Linked DNA regions of Homo sapiens: region 2 is linked to region 1. The links come from fine-mapping of genetic effects on gene expression. Tissue or cell type: whole blood. Region 1 holds a variant in brackets; the other region holds the start of a gene. All regions are shown on one strand. Distances are from middle to middle.

The links. PIP is the estimated chance that this variant, and not a neighbour inherited with it, causes the effect.
Region 2: it holds the start of TINCR, and the variant in region 1 is fine-mapped to the expression of TINCR in whole blood (TOPMed, PIP above 0.99). The same link has a PIP of 0.9 or more in cerebellar hemisphere.

What each region holds. Positions count from the first base shown.
Region 1 is chr19:5,587,286-5,595,455 of GRCh38, reverse strand. SAFB2 (scaffold attachment factor B2) reads left to right here. Exons shown (of 21, transcript NM_014649.3): 14 at 1-95; 15 at 1,278-1,565; 16 at 2,569-2,709; 17 at 3,663-3,708; 18 at 5,048-5,178; 19 at 7,476-7,588; 20 at 7,689-7,755; 21 at 8,057-8,170. Among named protein-coding and RNA genes, the nearest start is that of TINCR, 23 kb to the right of the region's middle. RefSeq lists an enhancer at 5,678-6,300. The variant C/T (reference allele first, on the strand shown) is at 3,732.
Region 2 is chr19:5,564,294-5,572,463 of GRCh38, reverse strand. TINCR (TINCR ubiquitin domain containing) reads left to right here and starts at 4,511. Exons shown (of 3, transcript NM_001396408.1): 1 at 4,511-4,799. The coding sequence starts at 4,540.

The DNA.
Region 1 (8,170 bases):
AGAGACATCTTGTCGTTTGATAAAATCAAAGAACAAAGGGAGAGAGAGCGCCAGAGGCAGCGGGAACGGGAGATCCGCGAAACGGAGAGGCGGCGGTGAGTGGAGCTGGGTGAGGCTGTGGGCTGGTGGTTTCCTCTCGGGGTGGCTGTCCTTCTCCCAGCTGTACTTGGAGTGCGCAGTCTGTGTGCCCGAGAGCCAGTGCCTGGGCTGGCGGGTGTCGTGCTTAACCTGGGTCCTCGAGGCAGGGGCCAGCACCTGTTCACACGTGAGCCGCCAGACATGCCAGGTGGCATGAAAGTCATCAAAGGGCCAGGTGCAGTGGCTCACACCTGTAATCCGAGCACTTTGGGATGCCAGGGCCAGAGGATCCCCTGAAGCCAGGAGTTCAAGACCATCCTAGGCAATGTAGCGAGACCCCACCTCTACAAAATATTTAAAAATTAGCTGGGCATGGTGGCGTGCACTTGTAGTCCCAGCTACTCAGGAGGTTGAGGTGGGAGGATTGCTGGAGCCCAGAAGCTCAAGGCTGCAGTGAGCTGTGATCACAACAGTGCACTGCAGACTGGGTGACAGAGTGAGACCCTGTCTCTTAAAAAGAAGTCATCAAAGCCCTTTACAGTATATGGGGTTTGGCTATGTTGCCAGGCTGATAACTGCTGGGCCCAAGCGATCCTCCTGCGTCAGCCTCCCTAAGTGCTGGATTACAGGCTGAGCCTTCTGCTGGCTCAAAGTCTATTTTCGCCCCTCCTCTGATGTTGGACCTTGGCCCGTGTGGAAGGCCCAGCCGTGTGTGGCTTTGATGGGATGGGATGGTGCCTGGGTGCTGAGGCCTGTCTTCCCTGTTGAAACCTTTCACCTAAGGTCAGAAACTGCAAGCAGAGTCCAGTTGTCATTTTGCCGCGGCTCCCTTCTGGGCTGTGGTCTTGAAGGAGGCTTGTCCCTCTGCCTTGACATTCGGCCTTTTCATGTCGGGATGCCCGGCGTTCTCTTGTCACTTTTCCTCAAATATTGCTCAGTAAAGCAAAAGCTGTGCTCACAGCATTTGGAAAATGTTCTCGAGCAAACCTAGAAATGTTGCCAGCTGTGCTGCCTTTGCTTTTCTTAAGGTAGCTTTGTTAAGTAAGGTAACCCCCTGCACGCGCAGCTTTAGGGAAGCCCGGTGAGCTTTTGGATCCATTTTTTTTTTCTGCTTCCAATACACACCCAGTTTTGGGCACCGGGCTTTCTCCTTGGAGGCTCACGCAGGGAGTTCAGGGCAGCCTCACCTGTCCCCGCAGGGAGCGCGAGCAGCGGGAGCGGGAGCAACGCCTCGAGGCCTTCCATGAGCGGAAGGAGAAGGCCCGGCTACAGCGGGAACGCCTGCAGCTCGAGTGCCAGCGCCAGCGGCTGGAGCGGGAGCGCATGGAGCGGGAGCGGCTGGAGCGCGAGCGCATGCGCGTGGAGCGTGAGCGCAGGAAGGAGCAGGAGCGCATCCACCGCGAGCGCGAGGAGCTGCGGCGCCAGCAGGAGCAGCTGCGTTACGAGCAGGAGCGGCGGCCCGGGCGGAGGCCCTACGACCTGGACCGGTGAGTCCCGCCCAGAGCGTGGGCAGGACGGAGACCAGCGTGGCAGCGGTGTTCACCCTTCCAGCAGAACAGCGGCTTCCCTTCCGTCCCTGTCGGTGGGGAGAATGAAATTTGATATGGAGCATGCGCCTTGGGGACCCCCCGCCGATCTCACTGCGCTGCTGCAGGTTTATTAGTTCGCTGTCCTCACCGGAGGCTGTGTAGCATCTTCCTGAACTTGAGTTATTCTGGGAAACTTGATGGCTGCCACTTGCTGAAGGGTTTGTGATGCTTTTCCTCTCCACTTACCCGTGGAGCATAGCTGTTCTCTGTCTTGCGAGACAACCGAACGCCCGTTAGGCCCAAGTTGGCCACCGCTGACTCTGCCGGTCTCATGTGTCCTTGTAGACAGAGAGGCAGAGCAGGCGCTGTGGAAAAGGAAATTGCCTCTGATTTAGAAAGTAGGTTTATTGGTCTCTAGCTACCCCAGGCGGCTTAATTGACAGTCACCCTTCACCCCGCTCTCCGTGAGCCTAGTTTTCTGGTAAAAATCAGGAAGAAGATAATTGGATGCCGTCCAGAGCTGTGTGTAGTTCACTATCACCCCATCTAATTCTCTTTGCTTTTGCAAGAAACTCAGAGGGAGATTCAGGCTCCCGTGGAAGGCAGGGAAAGTAAAAGTGTGGCAACTCGAATGCTATTCCAGAAGAATCAAATATTTCTTTTCAGTTGCTCATGAGGGGGGATCAAGGTAATAACAGCCTCACGAGACAATGAGCTCACAGCAGTGCTCCTTTTGGGACTGTTGGATGAGAACACAAGTGTGCCTCTCGGCTGTTAATGGCGGTTTTAATTTATCAGATCAAAGCAATGATGATCGAATGTTTAGAGATTAGCCCTGCAGGACATTTTAAACGATACTGGGTCTGGGGAGAGAGCTCCCCTCCCCACCTCCACCTCCTCCTTTTTTCCTCCTCCTCTCTCATTAATGGAATTTGTATTCTTTTAAAATAAAAACCAACAGACGAGATGATGCCTATTGGCCAGAAGGAAAGCGTGTGGCAATGGAGGACCGATATCGTGCAGACTTTCCCCGGCCAGACCACCGCTTTCACGACTTCGATCATCGAGACCGGGGCCAGTACCAGGACCACGCCATCGACAGGTCAGTGGTCTTGTCCCCTCCTTTAGCTACAGTCATTGTGGGCACCGGGGCATCCAGCTGACCTCGTTCTCAGCCCAGTGCAGGGGTTCCTGTGTGCTCTGAAGCCTCGTTTACTTCTGAGATCCACAGTGGATGACTCTGGCCTTGCACAGAACTTGAGCGAGTTGCTGGAATCCCCAGCTTACCTCAGAGGAAGGCATCTCAGAGCTCATTCCATCCACCGACTCTTTTCATAGGTGGGCCAGGAGGGGCCTGAGTGCAGGCCATCTACACTGAGCTCTCTTGTGAGGCAGCAGTGTTTGTCAGCACAACCTGGTTGTGCCCAAGAGCTACCAGAGAATTGATGGAGGACGTGCAAAATTTCTCATGAGGCCTGTTTTGTATTTCGAGGGTCTGGGTGGGTTTTTTAGCCTTTTAAAATGAGGAATACATCTAGTTTATTAAAAAGGCAGCCCTTGGTTTTCCAGTGTAAGAATCCTGTCTTTGGGCTCCCCTCGGCTGCACATCTCTGACCCATTTCCCCATTCATTGGCTCCTTCAGTCGGAATGTCAGAGCGGGGAGAACAGGAAAGGGAGGCTGAGAGGCCACACTCTTAATTCTGCTGGAGTTTGGGGTGGAGTTGGTGTGAATTTTGATGAGTCCCACGCATTGGGTCAGACCAAAGATGAGGGATCATTGGAGGCCTCTGTTTGTCCCTGTTCCCCTAACTGAGAGCTCCCCGAGGAATTTTAGTTCAGTGAGATCTTTATTCCTACCTCTTTAGGATCCAACTTCGTTTCTGCCCCCGGGGAAAAGCCTTTCGATTTGAGCTAGCTTTTTCCTTTTTTCCCAGGCCAGTTATAGTTTTTATGTGATGGGATGGAAAAAGTATCCCAGTCGCGAAACTTGCCTGACCTGCAGAAATGTGTAGTCGTGCCTGGTGCTGTTTGAACGGGATCTTTTCCTTTTGCAGGCGGGAGGGTTCGAGGCCAATGATGGGAGACCACCGGGATGGGCAGGTGAGTAGAGCCCCGATGCCAAG[C/T]CCTGGGGCCACTGTACTGCTGTGCAGGCATAGCGGACCATTTCTAGCCAGGCGGCCGCTTGATCCCAGAGAGGTGGCAACCAAGTCAGCACGTGTGGCGGGTATGCAAGTGTGGGTTCTGGCCAGCGACTAGAAGTACAAATATTTAGTCGGACGTGGTGGCTCATGCCTGTAATCCCAGCACTTTGGGAAGCTGAGGTGGGTGGATCACAAGGTCAGGAGTTCAAGACCAGCCTGGCCGACATGGTGAAACCCTGTCTCTACTAAAAATACAAAAAATTAGCCAGGCATGGTGGCGAGTGCCTGTAGTCCCAGCTACTCGGGAGGCTGAGGCAGGAGAATCGCTTGAACCCGGGAGGCGGAGGTTGCAGTGAGTCGAGGTCGCACCATTGCACTCCAGCCTGGGCAACAAGAGCAAGACTCCGTCTCAAAAAAAAAAAAAAAAAAAAAAAGCGCAAATATTTGATTGTTTTGTAATGCTCAAGTTTCTGTCATTTTCAAATATGTTGGGCTTGTTCTTCATTGTATCCGGTAGAAACCTCATGTGTCTCTTCATTGTCCACTTGCTCAGGGAGCCTTTGGGTCTTAGTGCCTGTGGGGTCCCCCAAGAACCCAAATGGTGGTTGTCGTTTAGCCCACATGTGCCAGGGTCGGGGGGATGGGGGAGCCCGGGCTTCCCCATGTTTCAAGTCCGTGCTTGGTGGGCACGGGGGGCTGAAGACCACAAGAATGGTCCCTGAGTCTCTGTGGTGCCATGCGGGTGCCCCGTGCGTGGTGGCAGGGTGTGAGTTCTGAGAAAGCAGCAGCCTGGTGGAGAGGTGGGAGGTGGGCGGCAGAGTAATGGCCTGTAACAGCAGGCAGCACCCGCCTGCTTCCTGGCTGCTGGCTGCTCCGTGCAGAGTTGGTTGGCCAGGGAGGCCGGAATTGTGGCCCTGCCAGAGCACAGGGGGGCTGACCCACCCGAGGGCCCTCCTGTTATCGGAAAGGAGGCGGCGCCCAACTTCTCAGGGAAGACAGGGTTTGGTGACGTCTTAGTGGATCTTGAGCAGAGCTGTTGAGGGCAGTAATGCCAGGGTGCCCTGGCTCCTGGGGCAGCTCAGGTGGGGCAGTGATGCAGCTGTAGGGGTGCGAGGAGGGGAGCCAGGGAGCAGAGGGTCAGTGAAGCAGGGCCCAGCAGGGCTGAGACTGCACCCTTCAGTCCTCTCTCAGCTCCGCCCCACCTGCCACCCTGGGGCCTGCAGTGGACAGGCCTTCCGGAAGGTGGGCCTATGTGGGTGACATGGTCAGTGTCACCCTGTTCCTCTCCTGCCTTCCAGCACTATGGAGATGACCGCCATGGCCACGGAGGACCCCCAGAGCGCCACGGCCGGGACTCCCGTGATGGCTGGGGGGGCTACGGCTCCGACAAGAGGCTGAGTGAAGGCCGGGGGCTGCCCCCTCCCCCCAGGTTAGTGGGTGAGCCCCAGCCGGGTGGGGAGCATCTGTCCTAACCTGGGAAAAGGTTGGTGCCTGGCCAGGCACGTCCCCAAGGTTTGATTCAGCTAGGGGAGCTTTAGGATGGGCTACCAGGGGTCCTGCCATTTGAAACCCCTGACTCAGAAAGTCCAGGTTCTCAAGAAGAAAGCATAGAACAGGCTTTCAGGGATGGAGCTGTCCAGGTCGCCCAGAATGGCCCATCCCCATTCTTGAGCTGGGGGTCGCCTGCAGTTGTGAATGTCTCGATCATGGGCTGCGTACACACTGGGAGAGACAGCGCTGAAGCTCTTAGTCCTGCCCCGTCCGTGGTAGAGCAGCCTCGCCCCTGCCTCCACGTTGCCTCTTGACACGTGTCTTCCTCGGGTTTTTTCTCTGACCCCCAGTTGGTCTGGGGTGGATCTTCTCAACCCTATCCTGCCTATTAGAATCACTTAGGAGGACCCTCCACCCAGGACTCAGGGCTGAGGACACTGGGCCAGGTCCTCCACAGGTGTCCAAAGCCACCTTCACCAGCACTGCAGTGGGGGTGCTGTTCTGAGCCTTGTCAGCATTGGTGGGGGGCAGGGCTTGTCTGGGAGGACTCTGGGTGCCTCTCTAGTTTCTTTGGCCAGCTGCAGTCACCCCTGCCTGTTTGTCCTGTTGCCGTCTGGGCTGGCCGTGAGGAGGCTGGTGGCAGGACTGCTTTGCGGCTGCTGCCCTGCTTTCCTCTGTGAGCCGAGTGTCCTGTCTTGTCTCCAGCCCTGGCCCAGGGCTGCCTCGGACCCTGCCCAGCGCCACAGGGTGGGTTTTGGCCCCCTGTGCTCCCCCGTTCCATCCCTCCCTCCGCGCTGAGAGGCACTTCCAGCTCTGCCAGGGACTTTGACTCGGTGCTGTGCCGAGTGTCCCAGGACACCCGAAGCTTCTCCTGAATCTCTGGGCAGCACAGACGGTGGCAGTGCTCTGATCAGTTGGTGTGAAGTGTTCTCTCCTGTGAGACTTCATTAGCATTCCTGTCCTGTCGCTTGCTGGGTGTTATGGTAAATACCTCGGGAGTGTAAACGGGAAACTCACCCATGGTGAGCAGCGGCTGGGCGCCATCGGGTCACCGAGGGCAGGTTCCACACGGGAGCTTTCCGCTCCCTCCAGGGCGGTATTGCACTTGCCTGGCAGTGCGCGCTGGGGGCTCTGGTGGCCCCTCTCGGGCCTGTGGGCTGGCTCACTTGGCCTGACTGTCACTGCATCCGGCAACCCACAGCAGGCAGGCACTCGTGCAGATGGGTCTGGCTGCTTTCCTGCACGGCCACTGTGACTGCTTGGCCACTTGGGACTCAGGACACTGGACTCGGATTTTCATCTCCCAGAGTTTGTCTGAAACTTTAAACAAATAGCTTTCTTTAAGTATAGTTCACACGACACACACTTCCCGTTTCACGTGTGCAGTCAGTGGAGGTTTGCGTGTACGTGGATCTGTTTAGCCATCCCCACGGCTGATTCTGAAGCATTTTCATCACGTCAAAAGAAACCCTGCCCCTTTTAGCAGCTGCACCCTCCCCCCTGCCCTTGGTAGCCACAGGTCCCTTTCTGGCTCTGGATTTGCCGTCTTGAGTCATTTCTTGGCCTGCGCGGTGTGCCTGCTGGGCCTGGCTTCTCCCTAAGCCTTGGGTATTCAGGGCTCATCTCCACATGCTGCCTGGGCCAGCGCTTCCTTCCTAGTTAGGGCTGAACATTCCATGGTCCAGACACACTACATAGTGTTATCTGCTCATCAGTTCATGGGTGTTGGGGTCCTTCTCCCTTTGGCTGTTAGGAATCCTGCCGCTAGGAACATTCATGCACAGATGTCTTTGGCCATGTTTTCATTTCTGGCAGGTAGGAATGGGTTTGCTGGGTCATGGTAATTCTGCGCTTAACTTTTTGAAGAACCACCAAACTTTTCCACAGTGGCCACACCATTTTACATTTCCACCAGCAGTGGACAAGGGTTCTTCCCTTTCCTCGCACCCTCCACGGTGTGTGTTATTGTGTGATTCTAGCATCCCAGCCAGGGGGAGGTAGCATCTCGGTGTGGCTCGGATTGGCATTTCTGGGTGGCGTTGAGCACCTTCTCACGTGCTTACTAGCACATCTGTCTTTGGGGAAATGTCCCTTCCCTTGATTTGCCCACTTGACATGCAGCCCTTGTTGTGTGGCATGACCCACCATGCAGCTGAGGTCAGGGTGGGTGCGCCTGCTGCCGACACAACCCTGGAGGCTCATTAGATGGCTGCATGTCTTTTTCTTTTGGCAAAGGGGTGGCCGTGACTGGGGAGAGCACAACCAGCGGCTAGAGGAGCACCAGGCACGCGCCTGGCAGGGTGCCATGGACGCAGGCGCGGCTAGCCGGGAGCACGCCAGGTGGCAAGGTACGGGGCTGGCTCCAGGGACGAGGGTGGCTGTGGCCCCCACATGTGTCCAGGGGCTTCCCCAGGAACGGAGTGTTTGCAGACCCTTCTTCTCTTCTAGGTGGCGAGAGGGGCCTGTCTGGGCCCTCGGGGCCGGGGCACATGGCAAGCCGCGGTGGAGTGGCGGGGTAAGGTGTGTCGTCCGTGGAGGACGGTGGTTCACTCCTGCTCCTCACTTCCTCTCCCTTTTTTGCATGTTTGATCAGCTGGCTGGGTTGGATGTTATGAAAACAAAGCAAAAAGCAGCTCTTTGCAATTTATGCAAATAACGCTCTTGAGTTACCTGGAATACAATGTGCGATGATGATTTTTCTCACCTGGAAAAAAAACCCAAGCGCTCTAAAGGCTGCGGGACCGTTACTGAACCCATGTTACGATGAAAACGCTGAGCACTTCAAGGGGAAAAAAATTGTCTGACTTTGTTCCTAGGCGAGGCGGCTTTGCACAAGGTGGACATTCCCAGGGCCACGTGGTGCCAGGTGGCGGACTGGAAGGTGGCGGAGTGGCCAGCCAGGACCGGGGCAGCAGAGTCCCTCACCCACA
Region 2 (8,170 bases), 23 kb after region 1:
CACTCTGAACCCCAGCAGCATGAGGCTGCTCTTTTCCCAAAACCCTGAAAACACAGCAAATGCTCAGACTTTTTCATCTTTACCAGCCAGACAGATGAAAAGAAGAAAAAGATATTTCATGGTAGTTTTTTTTTATATTTAGGTTACCATGAGCGAGAATGAACTCCCTTGCCTATGCCCAGAAGACGTTTGTATTTCCTTTTCAGAAAACCGTTCATGTGTGGTGGCTTATGCTTGTAATCCCAGCACTTTGGGAGGCTGAGGTGGGAGGATTGCTTGAATCCCAGGAGTTCGAGACCAGCCTGGGCAACATGGCGAAACCCTGTCTCTACTAAAAATACTGAAAATTAGCCGGGAGGGGTGGTACACAGTTTCAGTGAGCCAAGATTGTGTCACTGCATTCCAGTGTGGGAAACAGCAAGACCCTGTTTGCTCAAAAACAAAAACAAAACAACAACAACAAAAATCCATTCATGTCTTTCACCCTTTTTTGGACTGGCTTGTTAATCCATATTGATTTCTAGATGCTTTTTACATATTAAGGATATCAGTCTCTTGTCTATCATGTTTTGGAAGATTTTCCCCCTTGATGTTGCCTCTTCATCTTCTAGTATTTTTTATTTGTTTGTTTTGTTTTTCTTTTTTCTTTTTTTTTTTGAGATGGAGTTTCCCTCTTGTTGCCCAGGCTGGAGTGCAATGGTGCGATGTTGGCTCACCGCAACCACTGCCTCCTGGGTTCAAATGATTCTCCTGCCTCAGCCTCCCAAGTAGCTGGCATTACAGGCATGCACCACCACACCCAGCTAATTTTGAATTTTTAGTAGAGACAGGGTTTCTCCATGTTGGCCAGGCTGGTCTCGAACTCCCTACCTCAGGGGATCCGCCTGCCTCAGCCTCCCAAAGTGCTGGGATTACAGGCGTGAGCCACCGTGCCCGGCCTGTTTTGTTTTTCTTAAGACAGTCTCTCACTCTGTCACCCAGGCTGGAGTGCAGTGGTGCAATCTTGGCTCACTGCAACTGTGTACTCCACAGTTGCCATTGTACTCCACCCTGGGCATTGTACTTCAACCTCCTGGGTTGAAGCCATTCTCCTGCCTCAGCCTCCCAAGTAGCTGGAATTATAGGCACCCACCACCACACCTGGCTAATTTTTGTATTTTTAGTAGAGACAGGGTTTCACCATGTTGGCCAGGCTGGTCTCGATCTCCTGACCCCAGGTGATCCACCCACCTTGGCCTCCCAAAGTGCTGAGATTACAGGAGTGAGCCACTGTGCCCAGTCTCTCACCCCTTTTTCAATTTGCTTGTTAATCCTTATTGATTTCCAGATGCTCTTTACATATTAAGAAAATCAGTCTTTTGTCTGTCGTGTTTTGGAAAACTTTCTTCCTTGATGTTGCCTTTTGATCTTCTAGTATTTTTTTAATGTGCATATGTGTGTAGGAATTTTATATTTGTAGTCAGTTATTAATCTTTTAATTAAAGGTTTCTGGGTTTAATATGCTTTAACACAGTTAAGATTAATTTTATTTTTATATTTTTTTGAGACGGAGTATCACTCTGTCACACAGGCTGGAGTGCAATGGTGTGGTCTCGGCTCACTGCCAGCTCCACCTCCCGGGTTCAAGTGATTCTCCCGCCTCAGCCTCTTGAGTAGCTGGGATTACAGGCATGCACCACCACACCTGGCTAATTTTTGTATTTTTAGTAGAGACGGGGTTTCACCATGTTGGCCAGGCTGGTCTCGAACTCCTGACCTCTTGATTTGCCCGCCTCAGCCTCCCAAAGTGCTGGGATTACAGGCATGAGCCACCGCGCCTGGCCCAGATTATTTTTATTTTTAACTCCTGTGTTTTCTCCTAATATTTGTATAGTTTATTTCGCTGGGGGCAAGGGTTGAAGGGGCCATCTGGAATTTAATTTGGTTTGAGTTATCTTTAAAATCTCCATCTGAAAAAAAAAAAAAAAAGGCTGGACGTGGTGGCTCACGCCTGTAATCCCAGCAATTTGGGAGGCCAAGGCAGGCAGATCACTTGAGGTCAGGAGTTTGAGACCACCCTGGCTAACATGGTGAAACCCTGTCTCTACTAAAAATACAAAAATTAGCCTGGCGTGGTGGCGCACGCCTGTAATTCCAGCTACTCAGGAGGCTGAGGCGGGAGAATCGCTTGAACCCAGGAGGCGGAGGCTGCAGTGAGCCGAGATATTGCCACTGCACTCCAGCCTGAGTGACAGAGTGAGACTCCATCTCAAAAATAGTAATAATAATAATAAAAACTAGAAACCTCCATCTGAACTCTCATGGTTGTGTAAGAGTGATGTTTGTGGGCTGGGCGAGGTGGCTCCCACCTGTAATCCCAGCACTTTGGGATGCCAAGGCGGGTGGATCACCTGAGATCGGGAGTTCAAGACCAGCCTGACTAACATGGAGAAACCCCGTCTCTACTAAAAATACAAAAAATTAGCCAGGCTTGGTGGCGCATGCCTGTAATCCCAGCTACTCGGGAAGGCTGAGGCAGGAGAATTGCTTGCACCTGGGAGGCGGAGGTTGCGGTGAGCCGAGATTGTGCCATTGTACTCCACCCTGGGCAACAAGAGTGAAACTCTGTCTCAAAAAAAAAAAAAAAAAAAAAAGTGATGTTTGTGTAATGAATGGATTACAACAAAACTGCTAATGCTAGGTGGCCTGGGTTCGAATCCCAGCTCTGCCACTTTTCTCTCTGTTTCCTCTGGGAAATCTCTTTTCTTCTCTATGCCTCAGTTTTCTCACTTGTAAAATGGGAAGTCATAGTGTCATGAGAAAAGTAAGAGATGCTTCCCCCACCCCAATAAAGTACCTAGAAGACTGTCTGTCACTTAGCAGGTGCTCTTTTCTTTTCTTTTCTTTTTTGAGACGGAGTTTCCCTCTTGTTGCCCAGGCTAGAGTGCAATGGCAGATCTCCGCTCACCACAACCTCCACCTCCTGGGTTCAAGCGATTCTCCTGGCTCAGCCTCCTGAGTAGTTGGGATTACAGGCACCCACCACCACGCCTGGCTAATTTTTTTGTATTTTTTGTAGAGACGGGGTTTCTCTGTGTTGGTCAGGTAGATCTCGATCTCCCAACCTCAGGTGATCTGCCCACCTCGGCCTCCCAAAGTGTTGGGATTACAGGCGTTAGCCCCTGCACCCAGCCCTTCTCTTTTTTTCCTTCTCTTCCTCTCTCTCTCTCTTTCTTTCTTTCATTCTTTCTTTCCTCTTCTCTTTCTCTCTCTCTCCCTCTTTCTTTCTTTCTTTCTTTCTTTTTTTTTTTTTTTTTTGAGACGGAGTCTCGCTGTGTCTCCCAGGCTGGAATGCAGTGGCGCACGATCTCGGCTCACTGCAAGCTCCGCCTCCCAGGTTCACGCCATTCTCTTGCCTCAGCCTCCGGAGTAGCTGGGACTACAGGCGCCCGCCACCACGCCCGGCTAATTTTTTGTATTTTTGGTAGAGACGGGGGGGTTTCACCGCGTTAGCCAGGATGGTCTCGATCTCCTGACCTTGTGATCTGCCCACCTGGGCCTCCCAAAGTACTGGGATTACAGGCGTGAGCCACCACACCCGGCCATTTTTTTTTTTTTTTTTTTTTTTTTTTTTTTTGCGATAAGTCTCGCTCTGTGGCTCAGGCTGGAGTGCAGTGGCACAATCTCGGCTCACTGCAACCTCTGTCTGCGGGTTCAAGCGATTCTTCTGCCTCAGCCTCCTGAGTAGCTGGAACTACAGGCATGTGCCACCACGCCTGGCTAATTTTTGTACTTATAGTAGAGACGGGGTTTCACCATGTTGGCCAGGTTGGTCTCGAACTCCTGACCTCATGTGATCCGCCCACCTCAGTCTCCCAAAGTGCTGGGATTCCAGGCATGAGCCACCGCACCTGGCCTAAAAGTAAATTTTTTTTTTAATGTAGGCTGAGCGTGGTGGCTGAGGGTTATAATCCCACCGCTTTGGGAGGCCAAGGCGGAGAATCACTTGACGTCAGGAGTTCAAAACCAGCCTGGGCAACACGGCCAGGCCCCATCTCTACAAAAACTACAAAAGTGAGCTGGGCTTGGTGGCAGCGCCTGTAGTCCCAGCTACTTGAGAGGCTGAGGCGGGAGGATCGCTTGAGCCCGGGAGGTCAAGGCTGCAACGAACCATGATTGCGCCACTGCGCTCCAGCCTGTCCTTAAAAAGATCAAATAAAGTGGCCTCCCAGCCTCCCTCCCTGGAGCCTCCACCATGTAACCCCCTGGACATTCGCGCGTCTCCTTGGCTGGGATGACCTCGCTGATGGCTCTGTGCTGAGTGGCCACTCCGCCTCTAGACCCCCGGGCGCACTCTGGGGCCAGCAGTGGGGAGCGGACGCCTGAGGGGACCGTGGCACCCGCCCCGCCCCGCCGGGCCGGGCCTGCCCACTGCGTGCCGGGCGTGTCCGGGCGGGCGGAGCGCGGGCGCGGCGGGGGCGGGCGGCCAGGCTAGTCGGGCGGGTGCGCGGGGCGCTCGGGGCCCGGGGCCAGAGCTGGAGCCGGAGCCGGGCGGGCGCCATGGAGGGGCTGCGGCGGGGGCTGTCGCGCTGGAAGCGCTACCACATCAAGGTGCACCTGGCGGACGAGGCGCTGCTGCTACCGCTGACCGTGCGGCCGCGGGACACGCTCAGCGACCTGCGCGCCCAGCTGGTGGGCCAGGGCGTGAGCTCCTGGAAGCGCGCCTTCTACTACAACGCGCGGCGGCTGGACGACCACCAGACGGTGCGCGACGCGCGCCTGCAGGACGGCTCGGTGCTGCTGCTCGTCAGCGACCCCAGGTGGCCGCGGGGCTCGGGGTGGGGTGGGGCGGGGGCGGCGGCCGGGGACCCCTGGAGAGCGGCGGGGGAGGCGGGCGCCCAAGGCGGCCTCCCGGGCCGGCACTGCTTTCCCACCTCGCGCTGCCCGCCCGGCCTCTCTCCTGACCCGGCCTTGCCGGTGTCAGGTCTTGCTTTCGGGCTCTCTGTCTGTGCCTGTTTCTCTGCCTGTTTCTGTCTCTGCTGTTTTTCTGCCTCTCTCTCTTTTGTCTCTGTCACTCTCATCTTTGTCACTCTCTCGTCTCTGTCTCTCATCTCTGTCTCTTCTTCTTTTGTCTCTGTCTCTCATCTCTCTCCCTCTTCTTTCTGTCTCTTGTCTCTGACTCTTATCTCTGTGCCTCTCTTTGTCTCTTTCATCTCTCTCTTTTGTCTGTGTCTCTCTTTTATCTCTGTCTCTTTCATCTTTGTCTCTCTCATCTCTTTTGTGGCTGTCTCATCTCCATCTCTTATCTCTGTCTCCCTCTTGTTTCTGTCTCTTGTCTCTGTCTCTTTTATCTCTGCGTCTCTCATCTTTGTCTCCTCACCTCTCTCTCTTTTGTCTTTGTCTCTGTCTCTCTCTCCATTTTGGTCTCTGTTTTTTCCTCTCTGTGTGTCTCTCTCCATCTCTGCCTCTGTTTATTTCTTTCCCTGATGATTTGGTTGCCTGTGATTGTCTCTGTCTCTGTCTCTCTTTTCTCTGTCACTCTGTGTCTCTGCCCACTTCTCTCTCTGCTGTTTTCCTCCCTGTTTCTCCCTCATCTCTGTCTCCCTCTCTCTTTTCTGTCTCCCTCTCTGGTCTCTGTCTCCCCATTTTGGTCTCTGCTTTTTTCCTCTGTGTGTGTGTCTCTGTCTCTCTTCCCCTTTGTCTCTTTGTGTCTCTGCCCATTTCTGTCTCTGCTGTTTTTCTCCTTGTGTCTCTCTGTGTCTGTCTCTTTTGTCTCTTTGTCCATTTTTGTCTCTGTTTTTCTCTGTGTCTGTGTATGTGTGTGTCTCTCTCTCCCTGTCTCTCTGTCTCTTTGTCCATTTGTCTCTGTCTCTGCTGTTTTTCTCTCTGTCTCTCTGTGTCTCTGTCTCTGTGTCCCTGTCCAGTTCTGTCTGTGTGTGCGCGCATCTCTCTCTGTGTCTCTGTGAGTCTCTGTCTCTTTTGTCTCTGTCTCTCTCTGTGTCTCTGCCCATTTTGGTCTCTGCTTTCTTTCCTCTGTGTGTCTCTCCATTTCTGTCTCTCTTTCTCTGTCTCTCTCCATTTCTGTCTCTGCTCTTTTTCTCTCTGTGTGTCTCTTTTGTCTCTCTGTTTCTCTGCGTGTCTCTGTCCATTTCTGTCTCTTCCCGCTGTGTATTTCTCTCTCTGTGTCTCTGTCTCTGTTATTTTGGTCTCTGCTCTTTTTCTCGCTGTGTCTCAACATGTGTGTCTGTGTCTCTTTATCTCTCTGGTGTCTCTGCATTTTTCTCTGCTGTTTTTCTCTGTCTCTGAAGCTCTGTCTCTCTCTTCCTTCTCTGGTCTCTCCCTACCGCCTTATCTTTCCCACAGCCCCACTCCAGTGTCCGTTACCCACACTCACACTTGGATATCTGGGTCCCCAAAGAGGTCCCCTGGCCAAGACGACCCTCAAGTGGGGCGTCTTCTGGCCCAAGGAGGGGTCTGCAGAGAAGGGCGCTGGGGCCACGGGAACAGCTCACTGCCGGCCTGGGGCAGCTCTGGGAAATGGGTCGAGGATGGCCGAGAGGTGGTGAAGATGGTGGGGCCTCGTCTCAGAGCCTGGGACCACCTCCTTGGAAGCATTGAACAGGAGAGGGACGGGGGCCATGTGAATTACCCTGGATTTTATGGGGGTCACATTCACCAGCCCTCTAGAGGCTTGAGTCACCGAGCCTGGGTTGATGTTTTGAGGGCAGGAGCCTCAGATGCCACCCCGTTGCAGGAGTCTGGGGCTGCAATGGGGGCAGGAGAGGCCCCCTCCCCAGGCCCTCTTGAGGGAAGATCTTAGCGGGGACGGGGAGGCTGAGAGGATGATGAGGGATGGAGGTTCAGAGCTTGGGGCTAGGAGAGGGTGTTCTCGGCAGCGTACCTTCTATGAGGTCTGGGGGCTGGACGACCCTCAGACGTCCAGACTGTAATTATGCAGTACAGAGTCAGCATTTATTGTGTGCCTACTGTGTGCCAGACTCCATGCTGGACACTGAAATTCAGCAGTGACCCAGAGAGACCAGATTTCGCCTTCACAGAGCCTAGAGCCAAATAATAGCACAGGAGAATGTCAACTCGCAATTGGCGCTGTGGGGGATGCAGGGAAGGTGGAGAGGGATCAGTGACTGGGGGACGCCTCTCCGGAAAGGTGACATGTCAGGCTATGATGTGGAGGAGGTGGTTAAACAGAGAGTCAGGGAAGGGTGTTCCAGGCAGTAGGAACAGCCTGTGCAAAGGCCCTGAGGCAGGACTGCACCTGGCATGTTGGAGGAACAGCGAGGAGGCCCGTGTGGCTGGAGCAAGGGGGAGAGAGGGAGGAAGGGAGGGCAGGGAGGGGCCAGGGCAGTTCATGCAGGGCCTTGCGGACTGCAGGGAGGACTTGGGCCTTGACTCCGAGGGAGGTGGGAGCCATAGAGGGCTGTGGGCAGAGGAGGGACGGGACCTGACTCAATGCTCACAGGCAACCCCTGGCTGCAGCGGGGAGAACAGACTGTGATGGGGGGAGGGCTGGAGACAGGAGACCAGGGTGAGGTCCCAGTGAGCCATGCTGGAGGCAGAGAACAGAAGCCTTCAGAGGAGACAGTTTTGGCTGGGCGCAATGGTTCACACCTGCAATCCCAGCACTTTGGGGGGCCAAGGTGGGCGGATCACCTGAAGTCAAGAGTTCGAGACCAGCCTGGCCAACATGGCGAAACGCTGTCTCTACTAAAAATACAAACATTAGCCAGGCATAGTGATATACGCCTGTAATCCCAGCTACTTGGGAGGCTGAGGCAGGAGAATCGCTTGAACCTGGAGGCGGAGGTTGCAGTGAGCTGAGATCGTGCCTCTGCACTCCAGCCTGGACAACAGAGTGAGACTCCGTCTCAAAACAAAAGAAAAAAGAGAGAGTTTCAACCTCCTCTGGGCTCCCACCCTGTCCTAATGCCCTGCCCCTTGCCCATCCCTGACCACACACACAGCTGGGGTTGATGGCAGAGTCCAGCTTTGTCTTCCCCAACAGACAGGGGCCCCTATCTGCCTTTGCTGTTCACTGGCTGTGTGTCCCGAGGCAGCTAACCCACCCTCTCTGGGCATCAAATGGGTTCTGAGCTCCCCAGACCACTCCCAGACCTCTAGAGGCAGAGCAGGGGCTACTAGTGGATGGTGCAGCAGCAGCCGGGGAGGCCTC